Linked DNA regions of Homo sapiens. The protein of the gene in region 2 purifies or fractionates together with the protein of the main gene of each other region. This does not show direct contact. Each region holds a gene or a part of one and is shown on either strand. Other genes may lie near its edges.

Region 1 (3,500 bases), on a different chromosome or scaffold from region 2:
CTGGGATTACAGGTATGAGCCACCGCACCTGGCCACATGTACACTTTATTATTTTTTTTTTTTAGACGGAGTCTCGCTCTGTCACCCAGGCTGGAGTGCAGTGGTGCGATCTCAGCTCACTGCAACCTTGGCTTCCCGGGTTCAAGCAGTTCTCCTGCCTCAGCGTCTTGAGTAGCTGGATCACAGGCACACGCTACCACGCCCAGCTAATTTTTGTATTTTTAGTAGAAATGGGGTTTCTCCATGTTGGTCAGGCTGGTCTCAAACTCCTGAGCTTGTGATCTGTCCGCCTCGGCCTCACAAAGTGCTGGGATTACAGGCGTGAGCCACTGCGCCTGGCCTTACATGTATACTTTAAACAAAAGTAAGATAAATAATATTTAAAGATATAGGTCAAATTTGATTATAATAAAGAGATTCTCCAATATTATTTTGACATAGTATATTTGAATTTTTGGATACTTCTTAAAATATATGCTATTGGTTCTATCTATCTGATACCTAGAAGTTTCTGTTATAAAGGTATTTATTCCTTTTTTTTTTTTTGAGACGGAGTTTCACTCTTGTTGCCAGGCTGGAGTGCAATGGCGCCATCTCGGCTAACCACAGCCTTCGCCTCCCGGGTTAAAGTGATTCTCCTGCCTCAGCCTCCCAAGTACCTGGGATTACAGGCATGTAATCCTTGGCATGTAGCCACCACACCTGGCTAATTTTTAGTATTTTTAGTAGAGATGGGGTTTCTCCATGTCGGTCAGGCTGGTCTCGAACTCCCAACCTCAGGTGATCCACCCGCCTCAGCCTCATAAAGTGCTAGGATTACAAGGGTGAGCCACTGTGCCCGGCCTATAAAGGTATTTATTACAGCAGAATTTAACCTTGAGAAACTTTGTTGGTACTCCTGCTTCTATCCACTGTTTCTGGGACTGCTGCCCTTGGAGAAAGCAGACAACTCAGCTACCCATAGGGGTCTCTGCTAAGGAGCTCTGTCAAATTACAGGAAGATTCCTTACTGCAGAATCCAGGCAGCACAACTGGCTGCTATTCCACTGTGGAATGCAGCTGTAATTCTGCCCCTGAGAAGATGGAGAAATGAGTATGATGGCTTCTTTACTCCTGATGCTCTAATTAGAACAGTCAGGTAGCATACGTAGAGTCTAAAGACACAAACAAGATCAGAATTTCTTTTTTTTTTTTTGAGATGGAGTCTCGCTTTGTCGCCCAGGCTAGAGTGCAGTGGCGCAATCTTGGCTCACTGCAAGCTCCGCCTCCCGGGTTCATGCCATTCTCCTGCCTCAGCCTCCCGAGTAGCTGGGACTACAGGCACCCGCCACGTCGCCAGGCTAATTTTTTGTATTTTTAGTAGAGATGGGATTTCACCATGTTAGCCAGGATGGACTTGATCTCCTGACCTTGTGATCCGCCTGCCTTGGCCTCCCAAAGTGCTGGGATTACAGGCTTGAGCCACCACGCCCCGCCAAGATCAGAACTTCTAACTAAGATCACTCTCCCTTCAGTCTCAGTGAAGAAGAGCACATCTAACTAGTCAAGTCTGGCAGTCACAATTCAGGTGCCACCCTGCTAGGTAGGGGAAATGCAAGGACACTCACTCTGCAAGGACTTCTGTCTGCAAGGAGGGTTGTGGTCTGGGGCAGCATCCAAGGTAAGGGATCGGATTACTGTCTCACACACAAACTGGGTCCCACTCAGGTCTTCTTCTGCTTCCTCCACAGAAGCAATGTTCTCAGCCTTCCTCTTTACTGACACCATAGAATCTGAAAGACACACGAACCTTATCTGCACTGGGTGTTTAAAGTGCTGAGGAACATTCACCAGTCATTACCCATGCTAAAACTAAACCAAGGAATAGCTGCTATCTAAACTTTGTCTGCACTTGGTGTTTAAAGTGCTGAAGAACATTCACCAGTCATTACCCATGCTAAAACTAAACCAAGGAATAGCTGCTATCTGTGCCATGTGAAGGTGAGGAGACTTCAAAACATGAGATGCTACAGAAAGCAAGCCCATTTACATGCTAAGGTAGGGTCAGTAGGGGATAGCTGTAAAATAGGGTATGATATGGAAAGGGAGGATGCAAATACTTTACAAATGTTTAATCCCTTACCAGGAAGTGCTTTAAATCCTGCCCCTTCATTCTCTTCCTCTATCTGCCCCAAGCCTGGCTTCTCTATTAAAGGACTGTCATGTGGCAGAGGAGACATGCAGGGAGTCACATCTGGAGAATGAAGACAGGAGAACCATCAATCAAGAGAAAGCATCATATCATCAACAGTCAGTGTCCAGAAGTAGCAGTTTGTAGGCTTCTTGCCTCCCGCAGGGCTAAAATAAACCAAGATATGCTTTGAGGTCTGTTACAAAAAATTTCTCCAGACCAATAAGTAAGCAAAATATCTCAGATCAATCAATGCAGGAAGAATCACAGTTATTTAGCCTGGAAAGCTGTGGCCAAGACACAAAACCATGAACATAAAGGAACAAAAGGACACAAGTATCTAGAGGGAAAAAAGAGAAGAGGATTCCTTTATAGTGGAAAAGCCTTGCACGAACTTGTTTTATTGCTTTTTTTTTTTTTTTTGAGATGCAGTCTTGCTCTGTCACCCAGGCTAGAATGCAGTGGCACAATCTCGGCTCACTGCAACCTCCGCCTCCCAGGTTCAAGCAACTCTCTGCCTCAGCCTCCCGAGTAGCTGGGATTACAGGCACCTGCCACCATGCCTGGCTAATTTTTGTATTTTTAGTAGAGATGGGGTTTCACCATCTTGGCCAGGCTGGTCTTGAACTTCTGACCTTGTGATCCACCAGCCTTGGCCTCCCAAAGTGCTGGGATTACAGGCGTGAGCTACCGTGCCCAGCCTCTTTTTTTTGTTTGTTTTTTGAGATTGGGTTTCACTCTGTCATCCAGGCTGGAGAGCAATGGCACAATCCTGGCTCACTGCAGCCTCTGCCTCCTGGGATCAGGAGATTCTCCCACTTCAGTCTCCCTGGTAGCTGGGACCACAGGTGCAGGCCACCATGCCAAGCTAATTTTTTTTTTTTTTTTTTTTGAGACGGAGTTTTGCTCTTGTTGTCCTGGCTGGAGTGCAATGGTGCAATCTCAGCTCACCACAACCTCCGCCTTCTGGGTTCAAGCAATTCTCCCGCCTCAGCCTCCCGAGTAGTTCGGATTACAGGCATGTGCCACCATGCCCAGCTAATTTTGTATTTTTAGTAGAGAAGGGGTTTCTCCATGTTGGTCAGGCTGGTCTCAAACTCCCGACCTCAGGTGATCTGCCCGTCTCAGCCTCCCAAAGTGCTGGGATTACAGGCGTGAGCCACCGTGCCTGGCCACACCCAGCTAATTTTTAAAAGTAATTTTTGTAGAGATGGGGGTTTCACCATGTTGCCCAGGCTGGTCTCAAACCCTGGCCTCAAGTGATCCTCCTGCCTTGGCCTCCCAAAGAGCTGGGATTATAGACACGAGCCACCATGCCCAGCATGTTGTT
Region 2 (3,239 bases):
TATGAAATCAGCAAATTCATCTCTACAGACACTCTATGACGTAAATGAGGACAGTGTCCACATGTACTACAAAACTCCAGATGGGGAAAGGCCTTACTTTAAATTCTTGACTATCTATCTCGAAACATAAGAATTTCTTCCCTCTCTAAATGGAAACCATGTTCTGAGACACTAGGTGATTAAGCGGGAACCCATTTATTCAGTTATTCCTTTCCCTATTCTGGTATAATTTTTAGTTTAGACCAAGTGACTAAAAATATAACTAAAGATGTATCCCATGTTCAGAGAAAACTATTTTCCTATCCACTAAGGGCAAACGGGGAGATCTAGACTTGGACACAAATACCTCTGCCTGTCTCCCCACTTTCCCCACCCCTACCCCCAGCCGTCCAGTGTGGGAACAGGAAAGACAGCAAGGCACCTGCCTGGGCTTCCCAGCTGTTTAACATCTGGACTGCTTTTTGGTATCTAATATAAAGAAAGCCACGATGAAAGACAAGTCATTGTTCCAAAGTTGTTTTTTATTTTATATTTGTTGAAAGAAATAAAATTATATTTAAAAAAAATAGAGAAATCTCACAAACTGATGAAAGCCAGGAACAAAAAGAACAAGTTAGTACTTTTTCCTGAGAGGCAGATCTAACAGCTGCAGAATGGACTTCTTCCTTCCCAGCTTTTGTGAAACAAAACAATTCTCCTAAGGCATCAGAAAGCACTGAGTGCAAAATGGGTTGTTCAGGTACAAGGTCTCAAGCCCTCTAATGGGGACTGGGAAACGTGAAAAGCTGCTACAATTTCCTCTCCTTTAATACCAAATGTTAAACTGTCTATACTTCTACTTTTTATGTAAATTTGAGAATTTCACACTCATGACCTGCATTTCGGACCTGGTCGTGTTTGATTAAAATCTTACTACTTAGTGATCTGCACTGGCATCCCAACAACTGATTGCAGGGGCCAGCAGCAGGAAGAGCTGCTCTGATCTCACCATCCGCAGCCAAAACCAGCCAAAGAGCACCCATCCCAGGAGACTCAGATGCAGCTAGAAATTTATGCTAAAGCCTAACTCCTAACTATGCTGGACCTGCCCACAAGGGCAGATCACATCCTAGTGGTTCACAGGTCACACACAGAACAAAAGTTACAAAAGTCACCTCACAATTCCCGAAGCTCTAAATTGATTCATTCCCCACACGTGGTTTCCCTAATTTTATACTGATAAATCTATCAAATTAAAAGCTTTCATTTCCAACCACTTCAATAAGATAGACAACACCATGCTTAACATTTTTGTTCTCTGCCTAATTGCTTGCTTCTGCTAAACTTTGCATTTCCATGGCTAATAGGAAAGCTTGAACCCATTTTTCCAAAAGTTCCAATCTTGTGTTCTGATTTGAAATACTGAGTACACACCCCTGATGCTTTCTCTAAAGTTTCTTTTTCAAGATACTTAAGTCAATTCATATAACTGGTATAAATTCCATGGGAGCATCGAATTCCCAAGAGATTTAAATGTCTGTAGCGCCTACCATAGGTGCTTGCTTATACATTCAAGTGACCTAATGCATCTCCAATTAAGTTAATTATGTAACACCAATCAGCTGCTAAGGAGCCAGTAGGATCCTGTGGGTGTGTCCTGGCTAGTTTTTCAAAACATCTCTCATCCTTCATGGGTAGATTCATACTCCAAGGTAAGCTGGTGTTGGACCCTAGAAACCCCTATCCTGTCTCCTGGCTCTATAGGGAGTTAACAGCCCTCCTGGGACAGCTTCTCCTGGGCTCCAGTTTTACATTCAGAAGGACCTCACGACTCTTAAGAATGGCTTTGCTGAGTTGCTGGACACCATGATGTCTTCTCCTGCCCAGAAACGGCACGGTCAGCAATCTTCCACCAACCGGAGGGTGCAACTTGAGTTTTATTCTGGCTACATCATCCCAAGTCCTAGTATGAAACAGCAATGTGGCCAAAAATGACCATGTTCAAATAAGATACCTGATAACACAAACTTTTAAATCAGTTATGACTCAGTCTCTCATCTCCAGCCCAGGCACACAAAAAATACACAAATTTGAGCTAGAACTGTGCTAAGAAAAAAAGAGAAAGAAAAGAAAGCAAAAGAGAGAAGAAAAAACGTTGACAAAGACAATCTAAACTACCAACACTGACGTAAGCCAGACTCTAGAGTCCCTACTTTAGCGACTGCCATTTTTTAGTCTCAACAAAAATGTCAATATCCTGAGTTTTATCAGCATTTTCTGAAATAATTTATGGGACACAAAAGCATATAAATGAATAAACAGAAGCAGTGGTACAAAGTCTGGAAAGCCCACTAACCAGAAAAAGAAATGTCACAACAACAATATCAAAAGATGTATTTAAGAGAAATAAATTAAAGGTTAAAACCTTACACTTTCAAGTTTTCTTAGACAATTATTTTGGGAGATGGCATGGAGTTGATACATTTCTCTAATAATCACTTGGTTAAGATCAAATACCAAAATGAGCCTTCAGAAGAAAATTTTGACTTTAAAAGTAACAGCCCCATGGCAGCTATTTTGAACACAAGAGAAACTACCTTCTGAATTAATATTCCAAACCCTCATCAGTAGCTTGTGTCATCAAACTGTTAAGATATTTTGTTTACTAACTTGGTTGTCAAAATTGTATCCAAAAAAACACTAGCATCTGCAGAAACTAAAATTTTGGTACACAAGTTTCTCTACACCACTGAGTTGGGTTTTTAGAATAAAACAATGCCAATCTAAGCCCAAAGGTATCTCAAAAACATAATTCCTATGCTTTAGTTTTATTTTTGTGTTTAATCTATTTGCTTCCTAAATGTTATTTGTATTTTTTAAGTCAATTGGCCACACACTACCTATAAGATGTGATGAAGTTTCTTTACTTAACCTGACATTGCTACTCAAAAACTTGTACTTTTGGGGGAAAACAGTACTAATTATGTTAAAACAAAGTTTATGCCATATATAAAATCACTCCAAATTACACACTCATTGCTTTCTATAGCTCTACGAATTTATAATACATAATTTAGAAGAAAATCACAAATAGATTACCATAGGTGGCATTCAACTTTTCTTAATCCAATTCAGCCTATCCATTAAAACCAAGAACCTTCTGCGCGGCCTGCCAGTTCCCCATTCCTTTTGTCAACTTAAAAAAGAAGCATTTCTTGGGAAGTCAGGATTTATTAAGAACATCGGGATCCCAGATATTT

What was found.
Region 1: the proteins of CEBPG (region 2) and NBR1 purify together in Homo sapiens (affinity purification with mass spectrometry; one large-scale study listed by BioGRID and IntAct). This does not show direct contact.

The regions. Positions count from the first base shown.
Region 1 is NC_000017.11:43,195,214-43,198,713, reverse strand, and holds part of NBR1 (next to BRCA1 gene 1 protein), read right to left. Parts: intron 2,234-3,500; coding exon 2,123-2,233; intron 1,773-2,122; coding exon 1,608-1,772; intron 1-1,607. UniProt on the Homo sapiens protein: Ubiquitin-binding autophagy adapter that participates in different processes including host defense or intracellular homeostasis.
Region 2 is NC_000019.10:33,379,948-33,383,186, reverse strand, and holds the end of CEBPG (CCAAT/enhancer-binding protein gamma), read right to left. Parts: 3' UTR 501-3,239; downstream 1-500. UniProt on the Homo sapiens protein: Transcription factor that binds to the promoter and the enhancer regions of target genes. Binds to the enhancer element PRE-I (positive regulatory element-I) of the IL-4 gene. Binds to the promoter and the enhancer of the immunoglobulin heavy chain.